2 separate regions of the Homo sapiens genome follow, and region 1 is linked to region 2. The links come from fine-mapping of genetic effects on gene expression. A gene starts in region 2. The other region holds a variant in brackets. All regions are shown on one strand. Distances are from middle to middle. Region 1 has its middle 130 kb from the start of LINC01559. Region 2 holds the start of LINC01559 (long intergenic non-protein coding RNA 1559).

Evidence for each region. PIP is the estimated chance that this variant, and not a neighbour inherited with it, causes the effect.
Region 1: its variant is fine-mapped to the expression of LINC01559 in nasal epithelium (TOPMed, PIP above 0.99).

What each region holds. Positions count from the first base shown.
Region 1 is chr12:13,498,648-13,510,885 of GRCh38, forward strand. No RefSeq gene overlaps it. Among named protein-coding and RNA genes, the nearest start is that of LINC01559, 130 kb to the left of the region's middle. RefSeq lists enhancers at 1-483, 484-983, 492-661, a cis regulatory region at 577 and a silencer at 2,815-3,015. The variant T/C (reference allele first, on the strand shown) is at 6,256.
Region 2 is chr12:13,370,384-13,382,621 of GRCh38, forward strand. LINC01559 (long intergenic non-protein coding RNA 1559) reads right to left here and starts at 6,362. Exons shown (of 3, transcript NR_036555.1): 1 at 6,131-6,362; 2 at 5,841-6,042; 3 at 288-3,055. RefSeq lists an enhancer at 4,965-6,164.

The DNA.
Region 1 (12,238 bases), 130 kb after region 2:
CGCTCTCCACAAGTGACACTAAAGGAGCGAGGAAGAATTTTTGCATCTTGTTGAGCTCCACTTCCTCCTCAGGCAAATGACTTGGCAAATCATTCTCTTTTTCTTCTCAGATGTTTCCTCTCTTTTTCACAGAAGGTGAACAAAATGCTCTCCTCCTTGCCTCACTAGAGAATAACCTGCCATTTCCAGTTAGGACTGATAGTGAAGGCTGTGAGGTGGAGTGCTGCGGGCACTCAGTCCAGGCGCGTCCCTGGCTCTCTTTCCTTGCCGTTTCTGCAGTCTGACCTTGGCCCTTTGAGCCTGTGCTGGGGTGGAGATGCTACTCCTTGAGGAGGTGAACTGTCAGCTATGTGATGTCCTCCCACCCTAGTGTTACCTGGAATGACCAGACACCAGAAATAAAACTGGAAATACAGCAGTGTGTGGCCTCCCAAACGAACAGGCCACTGCTCTCCCTGCTTCCCTGAGGCTTCGGGGCTGGAACTCAGAGCTCAGGTTCACACCTCACTCTAATGGGAACACATTGTCAGGGGCTTCTCACAGAGGGGAGCCTGCTGAGAGAAGGCTGCAGGCAAGGAACTCTCAGCCGTGCAGCCACATAGCCTGCACAGGCCAGGCTGGGCTGCCCACCCCTCCCCATGCTCCCCATCCATGGCTGGGCTATGGTGAGCTTCCTTCAAACCTGCTCAGCCTTGGCAGGCTCTGCTCAGAGACAGAATACTCTGTAAGGAGGGTGGCAGTGGGGGTTGGTGGAAGAGGACAGGGAATGGCTAAAAGGGCCAGTGGGAAGCCGGGAGCTCAGAGCCTTTCAGAAAGGAAACGAGAGTCCGTAAGCCAGGGTTTGGAAGAATTGGGAGACATTTGAATCCTCCCTCAATGTGAAGGCCATGCTTTTCTGTGAGGTGAAAGATGCTGGACCAGAGGCTCTAGTCTCCCGATGTGGGAGGTTGTGGTGATGTCGGGGTCACTTCTCTGCCAGGAACCTGTGTGTGCTTACCAGGATCTGGCTAAACAGGAGGAAAAATAGGAAGATCTAAAAGAGAGGCAATAGGTTAGCAATATTAATCTGTTGAAGGGAAAGAAGAGGCTAATACTGAATGATGACAGCCAGTTTCTCCAATAATACTGGTGGCATGGAACTCAGGGACTGTGTGTAACCAACATACTGCTTAGTCATAACAGATGTAGCACAGATACCTAACCATCTTATAGACAGAAAATCTGATCACCCCGGAAGTTAAAATCACACCATAACGACAGAGCCCAAGGAGATATCCTTGTTCTCCTCAATTCTAGACCAGAGCCATGTTGACTGTCTGCTCTGCACCTCTGGCTGGGTAGAGAGATGAGCAGAGGGAGTCTGGGAAGGCAGGTAAGCAGAGATCAGAGAAATGGAAGCTCAGTCTGTGGAAGGAGCCAGGGAAGAAGTTGCCAGGACCACAGTTGCCAGGAATCAATGACAAGGAGGAGGTATATTTGAGAACCGATCACGTCAGTGTCGTTAGTGTCTCCCCGAAATTCATCTCCACCTGAACCTCTGTATGTGACCTTTGCAGACATAATCACATTAGCATACAGTAGGTACCAAGAGATCGACACCACCCTGGCTAACACGGTGAAACCCCGTCTCTACTAAAAATACAAAAAATTAGCCGGGTATGGTGGCAGGCGCCTGTAGTCCCAGCTACTCGGGAGGCCGAGGCAGGAGAATGGCGTGAACCCGGGAGGCGGAGCTTGCAGTGAGCTGAGATTGTGCCACTGCACTCCAGCCTGGGTGACAGAGCAAGACTCCGTCTCCAAAAAAAAAAAAAAAAAAGATACGGTAGGTACCAAATGCTATACAACTGGTATCATTTTAAGAGTAGGGCAGTTTGGACACAGAGACACAGACACAGGAAGAGAACATCACATGAAGAGAGAGGCAGAAATTGGAGTGATGCAGCTTCGAGGGAAGGAGAGCCCTGGATGCAGGCAACCACCGGAAACTGAAAGAGCCAAGCGAGGATTCTTCCCTAGCACCCTTGAAGGAGCATGGCCCTGCTGACTCTGTGCCTTTGGAATTGTGGCCTCCAGAACTGCAAGGGAGTAAATTTGTGTTGTGTTAAGCCACCAGGTTTGTGATCCTTTGTTACAGCTGTCCAGGGAAACAAATACTCCTGGGATCAGGGCCGCACCTCAGAATCCAGGTCAGTGCTTTCTGCAAGGTGGACGAAGGTGCCCATGCTTCCTCCACTCTTCCTCTGGAGTAAAGTGGGCCCTGGGTGATCTTATTTGAGACTGATTTCTCTGGGTGTGGCGCAGAACCACTTCAGCTGTCCCTGCTGTTCTGAAGCTTCTGTTTTAACTGAGGGACTGCAGAGGCTGGTAAGTCAATAGTGCTTTCTCCAGGGATCACAGACAGGCCTTCCTAGTCACAGCTTAGCTCATTCCCACCTCAATACAGCACATCCTGCAAATGAGGAAAAACTGAGAGGCACCTGCACAATTTACCATGTGTCTTAGCTGGATCCTTACTGAGTTCTATACCTTATTTCCCATGGAGACTCACACAGATGCAACTTCTAAACAGTGGGGCCACACTCCTGCATTTGGACACCCATTTCCTTCCTCAGATCATAGTGGTCCTCCTTTCCCCTGGCACCGATACTAACTTATATAACTGCTTCTTCACACCTTATGTATTAGCTATATATTGCTGAATAACAACATTATTCCAGAATTTGTCAGCTTAAATAACATTTATTATCTCACAGTTTCTGAGGGTCAGGAATCCAGAAGTGTCTTAGCTAAGTGCTTCTGACTAATCAAGTTTTCGGCCAGGCTGCAATCATTTCTAGGCTTGACTGGGGCTGGAAAATCTGCTTCTGAGCTCCCTCACATGGTTGTCAGCAGACCTCAGATCCTCACTAGCTATTGGCTGCAGATTGCAGCTCCTCCTCAGGCTGGTGACTCCATAGGCTCCTGAATGTCCTTGTGATACAGCTTCTGGCTTCCCAAAGCCCACAATCTGAGCACACACAAGAGAACAACCTAGACAGAAGCCGCGGTCCATTGTAATCTACCTTGAGAGTGACATACCATAACTTCTGCCATTTGCTGTTGGTCCCAGACCAACTCTGCCACAAAATGGAACAGACTGCATGAGAGTATGACTGCCACAAAATGGAACAAACTGCATGAGAGTATGACTACCAGGAGGTGGGGATTTCAGAGGACCGTCTTGAAGAGACTACCACACCCTATTAGAATCAAGCATTTCTTGTCTTGACTGGTCATTTCCTTTTTCTGAGCATGGGGTAGCAGAGAGATCACTTATGGCCACAGCCCCCAGAGTCTGGGAACCTGACCAATTCTACTATTTAATCCTATCTGGGGGATCCAAATTTCCCCCTTTTCCTTTGGCCAACGGAGATACTGCACTATGGCTAGGAAAATAGTGGCACTTTGTTAATCCCTTCTTGGCCGAACTACCTAGATTCAAGTCTTGACTCCTTCACTTATTAGCTTTGTGATACTGGGCAAGGTTTTCAGCTTCTCTGTGCCTCAGTTTTATGTAAAATGGGGCTGAAACATGATACATTTCATAAGATTATTTTATGGCTTTAAGAGGTAAATATATATAAAATAAGTAGCGCAATGCAAGGGGTGCATAAATGAGAGCTATTATGATAACTGTTGGAATACATCCTAATTTAGAATACACAAAGGAAATAGATGGGGTGAAGGGGAGTGGTAAAGCAGTGAAAAGTCAGATTCTTTGTTAAATGTTCTGTGATTTATGGAGCTTCAGATTTTTTAATGTAACTGTTACTCCAAACAAATGTTCTTTCCCTCTTCTTCTACTTCTTCTCATGAATACAATGGTGTTAATTCCTGTGCCTCTTACAGTTCAAGCAAGAAAGACTGCCCAATTGTGGCCTAACCTGTGTGTCTATAATTTGGTGAGGGTGATATGCCCCAATATAGAGAGAACCATAATTCTGACCTTTCAACTAAATGGAATTAATTTTAAAAGGAAAAAAATTAAATACCAATAAAGTTAATAAACAATTTTGAATTAAGAAAGTAACACTCCTTTATTGAATTCATTATTTTAATATCCCTTTGCTGAGTTTGGAACAGTCACATCTGCCAAATTTCAACTAGGTCAGCACAAATGTTTTTATTTGTAAAATATTCATTAGTAAAAATAACTATACCCCATTGTTTAAAAACCCTTACCAAGTGGATTGGGTGCTGCTGGTTTATGGTCCTTGTCATCCACATTGTGAGATACCAGTTATTTGGGTCAATGGCTCCTAAGCCAGATAGCACCAAATACTTGGCTGGATATTTTCTCATTCATGTTTGCAAACCTAGAATTAGAAAGTGAGATGACCATATACAAAACTGTAGCAGCCAGATTTGACATTAAGAAAACAAAACTAAGCTTAACTCAAAAGGGCCCCCAAAACAGCAATGAACAAGAACTATTTGTCTATTCTTCCTCCTGTTGGTTGAGTCTGCACACCAGGATGCAACTAACAGTCCTCTTGAAAGAGCGCTGGAGAAATGCTCTGCCCTGCTGGTTAAGCAGACTGCTATGTCACAACTTGAGTTGAGTTTCCATCAGCATTTCAAGGTCAGCACCCATGATCATTCCTCAGTAGCCTGTTAGAACAAAGCACCCAGGGCTTCTCTTATCTCTGATGCCTATAGATCAAGACAGTTCTTGCTGGAAAGAATCCTTGGCTATCTCCATTTATTGTCCTCTCAGCCTCTGACAACCTAGAGAAGAATGCAGTGACTATTTCTCAGAAATGGACGGTGTGGGACAGGTGGTTCAGACAATTCATGGCCAAAAGATTCAGCATTCAGGCCAAAGAAACTGATAAAAAAAAAAAACAGGATTCTTTTCTAACCAGTTGTCTGAATTACTTACCCTTCTCTCTTCCAGAGGCCCTGCTGCCTGACAAAGAGAAATTCATAATGACAGTGGAAAATTGCCAAACTCAGCAAATTTCTCCAAGCAAATAATGATTCCAGTAAAGAGTGTTCAAGTTTGCTATAACAATAATGAAAATAATAATATTTTATACACTAAAGTGCTTCTCATCCCCTAGTCTGCTATTTAATATGTTAAGTTTATACATTTGCATATGCCTGTAGGAGAATGTGCACAGTGTATATTAAACACATAAAATACTTTGGTGAAACATTGTCAGTTGTTTGATTAATTTCCAAAATTTATTCATCTTGCCTACTTAAAAACTTTAATCCCGAATATTACATTAGCCTCTACCCAATCTTAACAATTTCTCCCATTCACATTTTTAGGATCGAAATTTTCATCTATTAACATCATATAGATGGCTAAGAAGTTAGGGGCATCTTTCTCTGAATGTGTAATTTCCTACTCAGAAAGCTAAAACAAAACCTGAGGAAGGGGAGGCAAATGAAACATTTTCTCATTTGGGATTGTGCCTGATTTCTATTATCTCTACCCAGCCTGTCTGAGGTCAGAAGCTCAGAAACTGGAACATCACACTAGCCTAGCCTGGCTTTATTCAAGTTTAGAAATGAAACACTAGAAATACAGGATTCTGCAGAGCTAAAGATTTCTGTAACCACAGTGACTCATAAACACAGCACAAGAAATGTATTTGATTTGGGTTTTGGCCTTTAAATGTGCCACTTTCATCTCTTTTTGGCCTCTCCTTACCACACAGTGTTCCACTTAGGATATCATAGCCAGAGCTGTAAAGCTCCCTAAAGTCTTTGAAGAGAAAGGCTGATTTTGTGCAAAGTAGAGCTGTTGTTTTATTAAGGATGCATGAGAAAATATAACTAGACTTCACAGAGTGACTAAGAAATGCTGCCGGTGGGCTGAATCTCAGCCATCACTGGCCCTTCTGAGATCTTTAATCTCTTCTGTGAAGATCAAGAGGGAAGTGTGTGTAGGGGAAAAGCAGAGCCAGGCCCAGTACCAGGAGAAGGGGAGAAGGAATTTTGGTGAGGAAATTCAGCTCAGCAAGCATTCATTGAGCTAGGTGCTAGAGATAAAACTTGATAAATTTCCTGCCACAAGAGGACATGCAAACAGGAAATTTCAATATAATGTGCTCAGAAATAGTGTAGAGATGTGCTAGGGGACCCTGGGAGAGCTGCGTGGGGTCACTGCAGTCACTATGGGGATTATAAAGGAAGGGTATCTGGACAATGGAAGGCTGAGCTAATAGCCAAGATGTACAGACAGGAAGACAGGTCTAGACAAAA[T/C]GGCAGCGTCTGAGAGAACAAGAAACTGCATGCTGTATGCTGGGGACTTTTAGCACTTGGTTAGCACGGGGGTAGTGCCAAAATGAGAATGCAGAGGTAAACAGGGCCAGGTCACAAGGGGCATTGCCTGCCATGCTGAAGAAATTAACCATTGTTCTGTTGGTAGCGTAAAAGCCACTGAAGGGTTGTCATTAAGGAAAAAATGGGGCCTGATCTGTGTTTTAGAGAGATCGTTTCACTAGCTATATATATTTAAGAGGCAAGACTGGAGGTAGAGAGGTGTGGCTTACAGGTGATTTCAAGAGCTTAAGAAAGAATGGCAAAGGCCTGACCTAGGACAGTAGTTCCAGGGAGAAGATAGACTAAGTTGGAGACATAAATCAATGGAACCTGATTAGTTATTTGTGGTATAGGAAGAAAGGGGAAAAGAGCAGGTTTCTAGAACAGTGGTTCTTAAAGTGTGATAGGTGGAGCAGCAGCAGCAACAACACATAGGAATGTATTAGAAATGCAAATTTGGGGGCAACCCCAGACCTTGTGAACCAGTTACTGAATCAGAAACACTGAGGCTGGAGTTCAGCAGTATGTGTGTTAACAAGCCCTGCTAGTTCTGATGCAAGCTCAAGTTTGAGAACCACTAGTCTAGGATAACTTCCAGGATTTTACCTTGGGTTCCTGGGTAAATGATGCTACCATTGGCTGAGATAGGGGATACTCTAAAAGGAACAGAGTGTTGTGAGGGTGAGAAGTCAGCAAGTTAAAGAAAGGAAGAGAAACAGGGTGATTTTCAGCAAAGAAAAACAAAAAGAATTGGAAGGAAAAAGTGACTCTCAGAGCCTTCTTGACGTGCGCAGTTGGCAGAGGAAAATTCTGAAAGCCCAATTCGCTGCTCTTGGGGTAACAGTGGAAGGGAGGTTGCAGTCTGAATAATGAGTCAGCAATTTTATCCCCCAAATCATTAAGAAAATCTCAGTTGCCCAAACTATTGATTGTAACCTGTACTGCTTTCCATAACAATACACAGTAGCCACAATTTGGCAGGATTTGATTGAGGTCCTCCTACCCTTGTGTGTCTGCGAAAGAATATGCGTAAACTCAGGACCCAGATCAAAACCTAAGCGGGCCGTGAGAATGATTAACACTACGTTCAACAGCAGAGATGGTGGAACTTGCAGATCATGGCAAAACTTGGCCAAGGGGTCAGAAAAGTCCCTCTCATAGGAACAAGATCCCCTGATTTCTCTTATCTCTACCCAGCCTGTCTGATGGGAGAAGTTCATGAACTAGAACATAGTAGCCTAACCTGGCTTTATTCAAGTTTAGAAATAAAACACTGGAAATACAGAATTCTGCAGAGCTGAAGATTCCTGCAGCCACAGTGACTCATAAACACAGCCAAAGAATTTTTTATTCTTTGCTTCTGAAATTATTTGCCCCTAAATTTGTTGGTCACTGTGCCAGAGTCAGAGATCAAAGTACAGCTAATGTCACCCAAGTGAATGCTTGGGTCAAGGTGGTGAGATGTCAGCCACAATGGAGGGGGATGGGCAGGGAGAAAGGATCATTCTTCTGCTGGATAGAGTGTCCTGGAGTGGGGTCAGAGATGGATAAAGTAAGCAAGGAGAGGAAAGGGACAAATCATGGGGGAGGTGGTAACAGAAGGGTTCTGCAGAAAGTTCTGCCTGGATCCAGCCCTGCATCACATAAAGAGAGATGAAATAGCATCCCCATCCTTGTGAAATAGAGTTACTTGCCCAGGACATTCAGGTCTGAAAATAGAAGATTTAATGCACCAAGGAGGCTAGTAACTCAGTAATGACAGAGGTATGGAAGCTTTTTCCTAACATGGTATCTGAAGATAAAAGCAGCTCAGAGTAGACACATATTTTAAGTGCTGTCCTCCTAATACAAATCCATCAGTTAGATGTGCTCTTTGACCGGCTTTTTAGCAGCAAGAATGGCTTGTACTGATGAATCCGCATGATCTGTGCCAACGTTCCCAAGCCTTTGGCTTCACAGCACCATGTTCCAACCAACTGTTCTTTTCTCTGCTCCAATTCATTCTACGTATCACTGCCAGATCGATTTTCTAAAGTAGGACCCACGACTTTGTTCTGCTCAAAACCAGCAATGGCTCCCTCTTGCCTGTAAAACTGAATATAAACTTTTCAACTTGACCAAGGTACCTCTAATTTCCATTATTAATTCCTGTCTTTCCCTCAAAGCCATGGTGCTTGTAGACCCAGCTACTCAGGAAGCTGAGGTGGGAGTATTGCTTGAGTCCAGGAGGTAAAGGCTGCAGTGATCCTTGATGGTGCCACTGAATTCCCGCCTAGGTGGAAAAAAAAAAAAAAAGACTCTCCTGGACAGAGGTTGGATATTTTAAAATTATACTTTCTTGATCCATTTGAGCAGTTTTAGAATAGAAAAGAAGGTACATATTAATGGAAGGAGGAGGAGGGTTCGAGGAGCTCTGATGAGCATTATGAGCAGCCTGTCCTAGGCACATGAGGCACATGAGGACTAGGCACATGAGGCACATGAGAACTTGGCACACAGGATGGGGAGGGACCAAGGAACCACAGGAGGGGACTTGGTAAGGGCCTGCGATTTTTGTCTGATACATATGCAGTCTGGCTTCTTGTAGAAAGATCCACTTCAGAATTCCCAGCTAGGGAATTCTGCCTCTATGAGGGGCTGAGGGGACCCTGCTCCCATCAACCCCATGTGTACTACTAATCAAACATCTGCTGTGGGCTCCCTAACACCTTCATAAGCAGGCTTTCAGGCTTTTAAAATTAAAATAAAGAATGAATATGGTAGCACCAAGAAGCTGTCAATAATTTTCTTGAGAACAGGCAAACTTTGAGTGCACCTGCCTTATCCCCAGGAGAACAGCTGCAGCATGGAGCTCCAGGAGGACAGCAAAGGATGTTCCCAGTTCCCATTCCTGGTAGAGTGCTTGGTCAAGTGGCTTAACCCACATGTGCTTCAGTGTCCTTATGTGTAAACTGGAGATAATAGACTAATAGTACAAGGTGCTGTTCTAGGTATTTTATACATATTATCTCATTTAATCTTTACAACAGTCTTGTGAGATAATATGTATAAAACACTCAGAAGAGCACCTTGTACTCAATAAGGCCTAAGTAAATGCATGCTGCTGCTATTAGTGGCAGATAAGGTAGGGTTCTAAAGTCAGCTTTCTTGGGTTCAGGTCACAGCTTTACCTTGCTGACCTTGGGCAATTACTTAACCTTCTCTCTATGACTCGGATTCTTCATCTGTAAAATGGGGATAAGCAATAATACTTTCCTCATAGGATTGCAGTGAAGATAAGTAAGTTAGTGCATTTTGAGCAGTGACTGGCATCATATGTTATCAAATATCAGCTACTATGCTAATTATCTTAGTCATCTCCCTATCCCCCCCCCCCCTTGCCCTCCCCTTGGCCGACGTAGTTTTTTAAACTTTGATTCTTAATATTTTAGGAAGTGCTAGGATTCCCTGGAGTCTTCCTTCCTGCAAGTTCATTCTATTTTATGTCTCGATTAGTGGGTCATAGATTTACAGTTGTTGTAAAACCTGGGTGCTTGGGTCTCAGCCCAGAGACACTGATTCAGTTCAATTGCAGTGGGGCTCCAGCACTGGTATTCTTTTTAAAGCTTCCCATATTATTCTAATGTGCATTTAGTATTCAGAACAACTTGTCCATACTGGTTTGAATCAAAAGAATATAAGGAGGAGTGTACACATACTAGACCACTCATCAAAAACCACCTAAGCCTTTTACTAAAGAAATGATCATAGAGCCTTGGTAAACCTTTCAAATTGATTTGGGAAGAACCTTGTGTTTGTGAAACTCTCAAAAGCATTTTGATGTGCATATGTGCTTGGCTTCAGCTCAGATACCTGTAGTGATACTTACTGTGGAGCCTTGCTCAGGTATTGTGGGTTGGGGGCGGGGCAGTGGCTACTATCTGGGGTCATTTGACATTGAATTTCAGCTATCATCTTTAAAAAATCACTTGAGTTATGAAGGGAAAGGAGACATAACTCAGCTCAGAGTGTCCCACCTGCTGGACCACACATATTTGGTGTTTCTTTTATATTCACAGGCAGCTTTCACAGTCATTGTAAAAGATTCTTTGATTCAGGCTGAAGATTTTGAACTTTATTCTGTAAGCTGTGGAAAACTTGTGAAGATTTAGGGCAGGAAAGCAATATGGTGACAAAAGAATTTCAAGAGTTCTGGTGGTGATGTGTAGAATGGATTGGATCAGGGAAAGAAAGAGGACAGGGAGTGTTATCAGAAGGCGATTGACGCAGTGCAGGTGAGAAGTGCTGGGAGAGAAGGGAGGACATGCGGTGGAATGAAGGACTGGGGTTCTATTAAGAGGTGAGGCTGGCCTTCTGAAGGGGTGGAAAATGATACCCCTTTAACCACATCACTGGCCCCTCATAGCTAAATTATGAAGCCCAAAAGCTATCTTAGCTCATTTCTTATTCAACAAGAAATTTACTTAATCTCTAGAATGTGCCAGTTGTAGGCACACGTGGTATAGTCAGTGGTGAATGGTCAGAAAAGCTTGGACAGAGCTCACTTTCTAGTGGGTAGGGGAGGAGAATATAATCACACAAAAAGAATACATTAAAGTGCCATGCAGAGGATTATACTGAAGTGAAATGATAGAGCATCTAATGCCTAATTTAGATGTAGCCACAAACTGCCTTACCACGAATGTGGCATTTAAGCTGAGATCTGAAGAAGAAGGAACCAGCCTTGTGATGATTGCTGCAACAGCATCCCAGGCAGAGGAGCAGCAAGGGCAAAGGTGGCCATGAGCTTGAAAATCTGAGAAACCAAAGGAAAGCTGGTGCAGGTAGAGGATACTGGGGGGAACAGTGGTCTTAGGTGAGGTTGGAGGGGGAGGCAGAGGCCAGATTACTTAGGGAATTCAAAGTCAGGCTAAGGACTTAGTGTATCCTTTATTCCAGATAGCATAAAAAACAGTGGGAGGAGTTTTCAAAGGGGTGTAACATGAAGTGATTTGTGCATTTAAAAATAACTGTGGCCACTCTGTGGTGAATAAACTGTAAGCAGGGCAAAAAGGGTAAGAATGATATTGACTTCTGTTAGGGTAGAAGCAGTAGAGATGCAGGATAGTGAGTTGGTTTGAATATATTTTGATGATGGAACTGAGAGGATTTGATGATGTTTTATATATTGTGGTGAATGATAGGGAGAAATCAAGGCTACTTTATGGATTTTTGGTGTGAGACACTAGGGGCTACTTACTGAAGAGGGAAAGTTTCAAAAGCAGCAGGGTAACGGGGATAGGTTATCTGTAGGTATCTTCCTATCATGTTATGTTTTAGATAATTATTAAACTTCCCAGTTGAAGGGTGAAATAAATGAATATACGTATTTGAATGTAAGCATCTAGGCTAGGGAAAAGTTCATGATAGCAATAAAAATTTAGAATAAAGTGGATATGGAATGTAGTTAATGCCACAAGACCGGATGTAGTCACCTGGAAGGAGTGTGTAGGTAGAATAGAGATGGGAGCCTGGCACCAAGGTCTTTGGCTTAGCAATATTTTGAATTGTAGAAGAGGAAATGTTGACACAGTTGTCTGTGAAGAAGTGACCAGTGAGGAAAGAGAAGGATCAGGGGAATAAGGTATCATGAAAGCCAAGAAAAGAAAGTATTTTGGGATGAAGAAAGTGATCAACTGTGTGGGATGCTGAGAGGGGGAGTAATATGAGAACAGACTATTGGATCTAGCAACATGAAAATCATCGGGCCAATGTAGTCTCAATGCAGCAGTAGGACTGGAAGCCTAACAGGGGTGGGTTTGAAGAAAGAATACAGGACAGGAAAGGACAGGAAATAGAGAAAGTGACATTAGGAAGCTGAAGAAGTTTTGCTATAAAAGTGAGAAAAAAATGAGGCTTTGGTGGGCAAGCGAAAGTTTTATTT
Region 2 (12,238 bases):
ATTTATTGAGCACCTACTAGATATTTGGAGAATTTTGGTAGAGCCCTATTGCTTCAGGCCAGGTCCTTGGGACAGTAGGCAAAGCCAGGCAAACCTGGATTTTATTTCTGATCCAGCTGTGTGACCTGGCTAAATTAATTTCCCAGTTGCTTCATCAGCAGATATGAGATTATAATTTTTTTATCATTTTAATTGACACAAAATAATTGAGCATATCTATGGGGTACAGAGTGATATTTTAATACATGTATTCAATGTGTAATGATCAAATCAAGGTCCTTAGCATATCCATCACCTCAAATATTTATTATTTTGTTGTGTTGGGAACATTCAGAATCCTCTTTGAAAATATACAATATTTGAAAATATACAATAATATACAATAAGTAGACAATAAATAATCATTAACTGTAGTCACCTACCCTGCTTTAGAACACTGGAATTCACTCTTCCCATCTTTCTAGCTGTAATTTGTATCCGTTAACTCTCTTTTCCCTATGACCCTTGCCCCTCTACCCTTCCCAGCCTCTAGTAGCCTCTATTTTACTCTCTACTTCTATGAGAGTAACTTTTTAAATTTTCCCATATATGAAAGAGGACATGTGGCATTTGTGTTTCCGTTCCTGACTTTTTTCACTTAACGTAATGTCCTCCAGGCTCATCCATGCTGCCATGAATGACAAGATTTCATTCTTTTTTTTTTTTATGGCTGTATAGTATTGTGTTGCGTCTATATACCACATTTTCTTTATCCATTCATCTGCTAATGAACATTTAGGTTGATTCCAGATTATAATGTTTATACTGTGAATCATACATACTTTATGTACAATGTGTAGCATAGACAATTCCTCATAATAGAAGCTCAACAAATGTTGGTACTATACCATTGCCTTTCCTGCTCTCCTTTTCTCACTCCTCCCCAGGTACAGAGATAACAGAGGTAACTAAAATACAATCCTTGTTCTTGAGGGGCCAATCTAGTGGGGAAATACATTTGTAAGGAGAGATACTCCAATGAAATTTGGTGTCTCCAGAGAAGAATGCACAACCTGCCATGAGAAACCAGAGGAGGAAGCAGCTGATATTCTAATAAAATTAAAGCTGGAGACATTTTAAAAGTAGTATAGCTCAGCTTCCTCTTTTACAGATGAGAGAATCCAGGTCCAGATAAGTCATGTGACTTATTCAAGGTCATGGCACATTTGTGGCAGAGCTGGGTATAAAGCTCAGAACTCGATTTCCAGCTTCTTGCTTTGTCACACAGAATATGCAACAGGGATTGAAACAGGAAGGAATAAAGATTTTGCATCAAACAGGACACAAAGCTGGAATGAGAGTAGCTGCATCTAGATGCTGGAAGAGAGTCCTGGAGCTGCAGAAATCCAGGGATGGCCTGGTGCAGGCAGAGCCTTGTGTCTGCTCTGTAATTGGGAGCTTGAGTCCAGTTCATGCTCTGACAGTCCCCATACCCTTTCAGAAAGTAGGTTTTCTGTCCCAGAAGCCAAGCTTAAGAGGGAGTTCTGCAGGACAATTCATTGTAAGGAAGGACTTGGCTGAGGGAGAGAGCTAGGAGGAGGAACAAGTATGTCCTTGATGTTGGAAACCACCAGGAAAGGCATCGAGGACTTTGCCCATGCCAGGGAGCTTGCAGTGTGAGATAAAACTGTGTTTGAATCTGAGGCGGGAGCATCATTTTCCTGTGATCCAAATTAAAGCTTTGGAGGATGCTGCTTTTTAGCAAATGTCTGGGAATTATCCAAGCCTAAGGAATTGTCTTCAGAGATCCTTACCAGGAACCTAAAGAAGCTCTCCCTCTCCCTCCTGCAACAGGAGAGCCCAGGGAGCTCTTGAGGCCAGAGGGTAGGAGGGGAGGCAGAAGTCTCTGTGGGTGTCTTCACAAGGGTGCAGGTGGCTTTCAGATTAGCCACAGAAATATACTGGTAGGTATATATATTTATGGGTTACATGGGATATTTTGATACAGGAATGCTATGTGTAATAATCACATCAGGGAAAATGGGGTGCCCATCACCTCAAGGATTTATCATTTGTTTAAGCCAGCATCTACTTTACAATTCCTCATCTCCCAAGGCTACATAATTACAGTGAGAACTTTAAGAAATCCACGTTTACGTGTGTTCTTTTGGCTTAAATCCCCTTCCTCAGCAAAAAGGCAAAGAGGGCACAGCTGTTTGCCTTCAGCACTCTCCTCTCTATATCCAACCACATTTAGGGCAGCTTTCCATGGCTTTTAAAATTCCTTTCTCTTTTCGGTCTGCTCCTTTATATCCTCATTGCCGTATAGAAATAAATATGAGGCAGAGTCCTATGCTTTTACAATTCCAAGGAAACCTACAGAGCGAGGCTGTGGAAACTGATTTTCCACTTTACCGGGGCATTATCCAACATGTTGGGTGCAAACGGGCACCTTTTAGCCTTTTCTTAAATTTGCATGACCTGTAATGTCTATACAGATTATGAATGAGCCTGAGGAGTCTGCATGTCTAACTTGTCATCAGCCTGGAAAAATCAAAATGTGTAGGTAAAGTGAGCACAAGATTTGGAAAAGCAAGGTGTTTGGATGTAAGAGAATAAACTCTTAGCCCTTTTGAGCATGAGTTCCTCAGCTGCAGAACAGGATTGAGAATCCTCACCTGAATTGGCCACTCTGAAAGTGAAAGCTAGCTAGATAAAAGTGCTTTGAAAAGGTAAAGAAAGGTGATGATTTAAAGCTGGTTAATGCTGAATTATGGAGGAGCTCTTTGGAAATTCTTTTTTATCTATATAAATGACAGAAATTTAGTGTGATCCATGTGGCTAGCACCTGTCACATGTCGTCTGCTGGCATTGATGCCTCACATCTTCCTCAATTTTCTGCTTCTTTTTCTCAATTAAAGCCGTCTGTCCACTCTTCAGCCTCTGAATCCTCCAAGCAATTCTTTCCTCTAGTCTTAGTGGATTTCCCAGGGGAGGAGCTCGTGCAATCCAGCAGAATGTGTCTACGAGCGCTCTGACTCTTCCAGGGAACGATTCCTCATTCCCAAATCTGTTGCTAGAGATAAGCAAGAGATTATACATTCCTGAGACCTGGGCATTACTTGAGTATCTAGGGGAAAATCAAGAATACTAAGGGGAAAAGGAGAGAAGGACAAGAGCAGCACATTTTATTTGCATCAGGCAAAATTGGGAAGTTGCAGAGAAAATGTTGCCCTTTGACTGCATGGAGGAAGACGGAACATCAATATGAAAATGGCGCTAAAGAGGCATGGGCTTTTCATGGTGTTTTCTTACTTCAGCTGCTATTGTTCAAAGAAGGTCAGTGGATCTCAGACATTTGAAGGTGGCACCTCTCCCATGAGAGTAAGAGCCCAGCTGACATAGGCCACTGGCTACATGGACCACTACTGGGGGCTCTTAACATCACAGCACCTGTTTCCTCATCTGGAAAACAAGGGGCTGTAACTACATCTGTGGCTTCCAACTCTCCCCTACTGGGAAGAGAGAGCTTCGTCAAACCTCAACCCTCTCCCCCTAGCTCCTGTATCTTTTCTCTAGTTATTTTGTCTCTGTCATCTTAGTCTCCTCGGTGCTCTCTGCTACCTGACTGCAGCAGGATGACTTGTCCCACCCATCTGTCCCATGGAGCCAGTCCTGAGCCTAGATTGAGTGGGTCCTCACCTCCATTGTGTGATATAGGCTGTATGTGTGTGTGCATGTGTGTGTTGGGGGAGGCTGAAATGACTTCTTTCCCTAAATGTCTCTCCCATGCCAAAAGTTTTTCCATTGATTATTTATTTTTATCTCTTTATAAGACAATTTTTTAAAATATCAGAAACAGCAGGAGCAATCATATGGGTCTAATCAGTCATTGACGCTTTCGAGTCTATAAATCTTTCCTTGTAGCAGGTTCTGAGGAAGGTAGGGGGAGATTGAAGGAAAACAACCCCTTCATATTTTAGTCCAAAGCTGTTGTTCATAGGTTATTCATCTGGTGGCCCAGGTGCTGACACAGTGACGTGCTTTCATGCCAGTTCCACAGCCAAATTGCAACCATGTGGAAGCTGGAAGCGTCTTGTCATCTCAGAATTGGGCACATCCAGTGGGGTAAAATCTGAAGCCAGAGGGGCAGAACTAAGCTCACAGCATCTGTTTACTGAGTTTGGGATTAGAAGAATTTTGATTTAAATGTGCACTATCAGTAGTTGCTTGATGAAAACAATACCCAGCATTTTGTGTTTTTACTGTCCCTAAGGCAACTCTGGTCCAATGAAAGTGAGAGTCTAAAAATCCCAGGATTATAGGTAATAGGACCTACCCTTCCATATCTGTGCAGTTTATATGAGTAGAACATGATTTTAATTTTCTATTGCCCTCATCCTTGCTCTTATATCCAAATACCCAGTAGCATGATCAGGAGCAAGGGAACTAATTTTCAAATATTAGCAAAGTTATTCAAGGGAATGGACTTTCTGTGGCTGCAGTTGGCACGTCTTTTTCAGAAAGCTTGCCCGTGGCTGACAGCCTGCTTGGCACAGTTCCTCCGGAGTCCTTTGGTGATGGAGAACAGGGCTGACAGGATTCAAATGGCCAGATTCCACAGAGGCCAAGGAGGGCCACAGTCTGCAAACCAGGGGAGATTGAGGCCTGAGAAGGGCATCAGCTGATGGAAATATTCACTCTAGGAAAACGAGGTGTAGCCAAAGAGAGTCATTTAGGAGAAGCAGATTGAAAGCAGCTGTGAAAAATCCTGAAATGAGGATATGGAATAGTGCTGGCCACCTCCGCATATGCCCACATGGAAACACACTTAATCAGCAGAGCTGGGCCTATGTGGAGATGCTGAGCCGGAGGCTCCTAGGTGTTAAGCACTTTTCTATGTGTAATGTGGTGGAAACCACCCTAGACTTTTCAGCGCACCCAAAGCAATAGAATTTTAACTGGGAGGGAATTATCCAGCCAGGGACTAGTTTCTGGCTTCTTTTGGAACTCAGTGTGGTTGTATGGCTAAGCTCTCACCAACAGAATGTGAGTGGAAGTGATGTGAGCCACTCTCAGACCTGACCATGAAACTTGGCTCATAGGCTCCTCCATACCACCCCACCTCCGCCCCACCTTCCTGCTTGGCTGGAATACAAACCTTGCAGTAACCTTGTGAGCAACGTGCTGAAAATAATAGAACTAGCATCTCCTGGGTTCCTTGAAGGATGCTTGGAGTAGAAGGCCCACCACCTGGCCTGTTCTAGACTATTTACATGAAAGAGAAAAAACCTTTTACTCTTCTCAAGGCATTGCATTTTGGGTCTTCCAATTGGCACAGTTTAGACCATGTTAACTAGTATATACAATAACTGGGCAAAGTAGGTGATGTCATCATTTTATAGGCTAAGAACCTGCAGCTCTGGGAATTTAAGAGATTTATTTATTTACCCAATATCAGGATACGAATGTGGAGTCATTATTTGAACTGAAGTCTGTCAGTTTAAACATTTATCTCCCAGAAGTTCAGACCTCCAGAGCAAACAGGTAGCAACAGATGACTTGAATGAGAGAGGGATCTCTGATTTGGCTACCATGTCCACTAACTCAAGCCCAAACTCATACCACCTCTTTCCACAGCTCCAGCTGCTGCACTGCTGAACTTGATCTTCATGCTGGAAGAATATGACAGCTGGAATGGGTCCTAATAATCACCCAGCTCAGTGGTTTTCAAATTTCATTTGGCAGAAGAAACACTTCTAATGAAATCTAAAACTCAGAAGCCCTGTGTGTAAAACAGTCCAAAGCAGACCTTGTCTCTTTGAAGTGTGGGCCTGGAACCTGGCCTGTTTCCCACTCACCTCCACAGCCTCTGAGTCCCTCCAAGCAGGTCAGAGAACAACTGATCTGGGTCAGCCCTTCGTTTCAGAGGTAAGTAAATAGTGGAGCATGAAGTGTCTTCATCAGGAACACACAGAAGGTAAAAGGCAGGGTGGGAACAGGAACCCAGCCTTCTGGCTTTTGAATTTAGGAATCTTTCCATTGTACTGGTGTATTAGAGTTCTGTAGAGAAACAGAACCAATAGGAGATTAGATAGATATAATACAATGAATATACCATAATTATACAAATAATAAAGGATTGGCTCACATGAATTTGGAGGCTGAGAAGTTCCATGATATGCCATCTGCAAGCTGGAGGCCCAGGAAAGCTGGTGCCTCCAGTCCAAACCCAAAGGCTTGAGAATCAGGAGTTCTGATGTCCAAGATCAGGAGAAAGATGAATATCCCAGCTCAAGCAGCCAACAAATTTGCCCTTCCTCTTCCTTTTAGTTCTATTCAAGTCTGCAATGGATTGAATGAGGCCCACCCACATTGGTGAGGATGATCTCTTTACTAAGCACATTGATTCAAATGCTAATCTCTTTTGGAAACACCCTCACAGCCACACCTAGAAATAATGTTTTACCAGGTACCTGGGCTTCCCTTAGCCCAGTCAAGTTGACACAAAAGATTAACCATCACAACTGGATTTCCTCTTTTGAGATACCAGCCCTTGAACCAGCTGCAGATTCAAGATGCCCAGCAAAGGCAGAATGGCAGAAGGGTCAGAGTTACTTGTTATATTAACATTTTGATTTCTGTGTAACAAATAACTGTTAAGCACGTGTTTAATTGAGAAGACAACCCAAGCAGGCTAAGTGTGAGCAACAAGGCTTGTTTATTCACTTGGGTGTGAGCCGGCTGAGTCCGAAAAGAGAGTCAGCATTGAGGAATGAGGAAGAGGGGGTTTTATAGGCTGGGGTAGCAAGTGGAAAGTTACAGAAGGTTACAGCTGGGGGTTGGTCGTTATAGATTTGGAGGGATGGTTAACCGGCTGGAACAGGAACTTGCTGTTTTTCTTCTTTGCGGTCATTCTTTTGTTGCTTTGGGCCTCTTTGTTCCAGGGAGCTATCTGGAGGTATACGTGCTAGTCACAGAGTTCACTTCTGGAGGTGTACATGTTGGTCACAGAGTTCATAATGGCCTGGCGATAGTGCAGCCACACTTAGGGAGCCTAACAATTACCACAAACATCATGGCTAAAACAACACCTACTTATTATGATCTCAGATGTCTGTAGTCTGGGTGGGCTCATGCTGGGTTCTTTGCTCAGTGTCTCACAGGGCTGAAATCAAGGTGTTGGCTGAGCTAGGTTATAGTCTGGAGGCTCCGGGAAGAATCCACTTCCAAGCTTATTCAAGTTGTTAGCAGAGTTCAGTTCAGTTCCTTGTGGTTGAAGGACTGCAATTCCTGATTTTTGCTGGTTATTGACTCTTGGTCACTCCTGGCTTCTGGACACTGCTCTCTTGAGGTCATTCCCTATAACTCCCTCCATGCTACCAATAGAGAACCTCTTTCTCATCAAATCCCTCTCATATTTTATTTATCTCTCACTTCCCCTTCTGCCACTAGCTAAAGAAAGCTCTATAGCTTGTTAGGTTACACCCATCTGGACAATCTCCCTATTGCAAAGTCAACTGATTAGTAACCTTAATTACACCTGCAAATCCCTTTTGACATGCAGTATAGCATAATCATAGGAATGACATCATAGGGTTAACGGCATGGGGGCCTGCTTAGAAATCTGCCTACCACATTTGCATAGTTACAACTAACTCTAGAACACACCACCTTCTCTTGAGGCCTCTGAGAACAATGGTAACATGGTTCTCTCCTATGACCTCCTAACAGCTTTTGCCAAATTCTTTCTGCTAGCTTCTGGGTAGGATAAAACAGCCTGATTATGCATTATTTCTAATTTAACATGGTTTGTGAGGCAAAGCAGGTATTAGACTCTGTAGGGTGTGTTCCCAGCCTTAGCCCTCCCTACAGCCTATTTCTGTCCACACATAGGAAGGCAGGAGGCAGGCCTGAAATCCTGGGGCTATCAGAAAAGGTGGGGCGGCAGCGGGGAGTTCTCTGTTCCTCTGGTGGCACTCACAAAACGACGATCAGAATAATCTTCTCCCTTTGTAGATGACTCCAGAGGGGAGACAGGATTTAACCAAAGCTAACTAGCAGAACTAGTTGGAGCTCTTAGTTTGGTGTTCTTTCTGCTACTCACAGTCAATACTAGAGTCAGCTGGTTTCTCTGTTGATTCTTTGCCCTGGCTTCTAGGTGATCTCAGAAAAGCCTTCCACAGTGTCTTCAGTTTGTTTCCTGACCCTGGCCCAGCAGGTAGGATTGCTGGCTATGTTATCTAGGCCTAGGAAGCATAAGAAATTGCCTAGTTAAGGCATCATGCTGACAGAGTCTGACAGAGTACCCCAGAGAAGCTGCCTCCCACTAGCTATAGAAGACAACAGAGGTAAGAAGACAGGCAGGGCTTGAAAAGATGTTGGAGAGCAGCAAGTGGTATGGTTAAGTTCCCTGGTTTCTGTTTTTTTGGTGTGTGTGTGTGTGTGTGTGTGTGTGTGTGTGTGTGTGTGTGTGTGAAAATGGGTTTGGCTTTGCAATGTGGATCCCAAGGTCAGATCAAGGTCTGTATGTGAGACTGGAGGCTCCAAGGCTTGTGGGAGGTTTCTGGGGGCAGGACCTGAAAAGGCAGGTAGATAAGAGAGAGGATATTTTATGCTTTATGGAATATTTGCATATACGTTATCTGATTATTTTTTCAGAAGTGAGAATTAAAACAATAAAGGATAAAAGAAATAACGTGACACATAGAGCAGCCTGGTGGTCTTGAGGTTGATGCAGAACCAATTTTTTGAGTAAATCCCACCTCCCTGCATTTCCTCTGACCAACTAAGGGGCTGGTTAAGAATCTTTGCAATTACTTCTATTCCAGTGAGTCCTGGAAAATATATGCTGGCCTCTAGTGAGGGATACCTGCTACCAGTGATATCCCAGTTTTGCTGATGAGGAATTTGTTTCTAATAAGTCAGATCTCTCTGGAGATAGAGACATAAACCACAAGAAGGGGGCCACATGTAGAACTTTCCCCAGGGTCTCTTGAATTGTGTAAGGTCAGCATTGGCAACACCCTCACCCGACTAAATAACTCTGCAAGGTCCATATCTCAAACTTTCTCTTCTCCAAAAAGAATATCTTGGAGGGAAAACGTGCTGGAGAGATGGAAATGGGCCAGGACTCTAGGGCAGATGCTGGAGGAGGTGGCTGCACTGGCAATCTCTCTGAATCAGATGCTCTGAATATTCCTTTGAGTTTGGGTTGCTGGGTAGAGTAGAGGTAAAAGCAGAATTTACAGGTACAGGTTTGGGAGAGGGTAAATCACCAGAGGATGTCCAGACCTAGGGAGGCTCTTTTTGCAGCAGAGAAAGTCTCCAGATTTTTGGCTGGAGGCCATCCCAGGCCCACTGTTTTCTCTGTGAAGTCCAATATCTGGCCATTGGGCTGGCCTTCTGGAGAGGCCTTCTGGCTTAATCCAGACCTAGGGCACCCCAGTCAGAGACAGTGGGAGGCCTCTGGTGTTGTCAGGGATCTTCACTGCCAGCTTCAGTCTTCTCTCCCAGCTCTTCTGTTCCCTTCGAATGGATGCAGTTTATAATGGGCCTATTAGAGCCCTAATTGAATGGTTAACACACCAGCCATTAGCAGCTGCTAATGAGGGAATCCAGGGGATTACGGTATCAATTACCAAGTTTGACTTCTGAATGTGGCTCTGCCAACAGTGGGTTCTTATGAGAGTCTTTAGAAAGCGTGACAGAGAGGGGGAAGAGAGCCATGCACACACAGTGTGACTGTGCCCTGCCTGTACCCAAGATAAGCTCTTACAGCTGTCCACACTCATGTGACTGCACAAAACAGGTTCTGGGGCAGTTTATCCACCCATGATGGAGATAGCATTCATCCCAAACACCTGCACACCTCTCTCCCAGGTCTTTTTACCCTCCATACAACACATGTGCTTCTTTGCCCCACAGCCATTTTCTCCTTCTCTGCTCCACTGCCTTCTATAATCCATGCTAGCTTGTCTTTGGCCTTCTTTCACACTTTCAATCGAGATCATTCTCAAGTTTCCCACTGCCCACATCCTATCAGTCACTGAGCCCTTGGAATCCCATCTTTTAAACATCTCTTAATTTCATCTCTTCCTTTCCCTTTCCTTCCTTCCCTTCCCTTATTTTCTCTTCCCTTCCATTCCCTTTCCTTTCTCCATTTCTTCTTACTTTCCTTTCTTTCTTCTTCCTTGCCCTGCCTTTCTTTCCCTTCCCTCCCTCCCTTCCTCTCTTGTTTCCTTCCTTCTTTACTACGATTGCCTTGGTTCAAGCTCTTGCCATCACCATGGCAATAGCTCCAGGAGAGTCAGAAACCTGGTCTCTCCGTCTCTAGTTCGTCTCCTTTCCCATGTCCAAATAACCCTCCATGTCTTTTTAAAAGGCAAATTTGATTGTCACTCCTTAAAGCCCTTCAGTGATCCCTATTGCTCACAGGATAAAGCATAAGTTCCTAAGCATGGCACGATAGGGGGCCCATGATCTCCATCCTCCCTCCATCTCCACCTCATATTCCACCATTCTCTGCTTTTCAGACTGAGCTGAAGCTGTAGTGATCTGCCTGCCCCTCTTCCAAAGGTCTAAGCTGTTGGGCGCACCTCTCACTTAGCACATGCAGCTATGTCTGCCCGCTGTGCCCCTGCTCTCTTCATCTGTGAAACTCCTACTTATCTTTTAAACCTCATGTATGAAGTCTTCCTAACTCATTCCTCTTACTCATGTGCCTTATATGTATTTCTCTCACTGTACCTATTTATACTAGACTTATATGATTCATTTGTCTCTCTTGCTGTTCTGTGAAGTAATATACTATATCAATGTTTATTTTTGAAAGCCCATTGTCTAGTGCAGTGCCTGGTACATCATACACATTCAATAAGCTACTACTACTCTAGTGTGTGTTTAATTGGTGGATTAGAAAATTGGTGATGGTTTTCACAACTCATTTCATGGATCTATATTGACATGTATTTTATTATTCTATGAGGGACTGTTAGTTGTTCACAGTCTAATTCTTTTGGACTCAAAGAGAACTGTAAAGCAATACAGTTCTCTTTGGGTCCAGAGAACTCCCAACCCTCTGCCCCAGTAGCTCAGTGCACAGGCTTGGGGTCTGTGAATACTCTTTGAATTGAATTTAAGTTCACAAGTGTTTATTGAGCTCCCTGTTCTGCTTAGACCCTAGAAGGAGGTACTTGGGAAAAATATCAGAGATTTAAGAGTTGTACTTATCTTTAAGGTCCTTCCAATTATTTTACCACCTAACTGTGCATAATCATGGACAAATACACGAGTTCTGTGCTCCTCAATGGTATCAGGATATCAATTGTGAAAGGGTGCTTTGCAACCCTAAGGGGATTCAGTGTAATAATGATAACAGCTATGGTCCATTTACCGCCTACCATGGCCATAACTGTGCTGAATGCTTTGGTCTGTGATTTACCTGTACACCTGTGATTTGACTGTCACAACTACCTCGGGTGGTGTGTAGTCTTATGCCCAGGTTACATATGAGAAAACTAAATCCTACGGAAACTGTTAAGAGGCAGAGCCAGGACTTACACCAAAGTCGACCTGCTGCTAAAGCTCTAGGCTGTCATCCCATGGTGATCTACTGCTCTATCACTCCGTGTGGTAAATATCAATCAATCACTCCATCTGGGAGGGAAGCTCTGTCCACTCCTGTCCTTCCTCTCCATCTGTTAACACTTTGCAATCCTGCTGATGGTCCACACATCAAAGCCTGTCAACTTGGACAAAATGAGATTAAAAAGCAGATATTAAACAATTGCCTAAAGTCAGAAGCTTTGTTTCAGCCTACAACTCATTTAGGTTAGGGACTTTCTGTATTGAATTACAGAGTCTCAAAATGAAGAGATTCAAGCTTCATGAGGGAAGAGACTGTTGTTCCCTGCTGTCTTCCCCACATCTAGCAAATTCCTGGCACATAAAGAATACCATGAATGGTAGAAACAGAAATGTTACTCTCTTGAAACATACCTATACCAGGGATAACTTCTCCTCTATAAACCCAATGAGAAAATCCATAGCAGAGTCTATGTGACCTTCAGAGTCAGAGGCCAGGAGCTGCCTGCTTCCCCAAGCAGCCTCTATATAAATCAGAAAAGTATCTAAGACAGGTCTCAATTTTGAGGTTTATTTTGTGAAGGTTGAGGACATGCTCAGGCAAAAGAGACACAAGCCACAGTAGGATCTGTGGCCCACACTTTTTTCAGAGCAGGTTTTGAGGGCTTCTGTT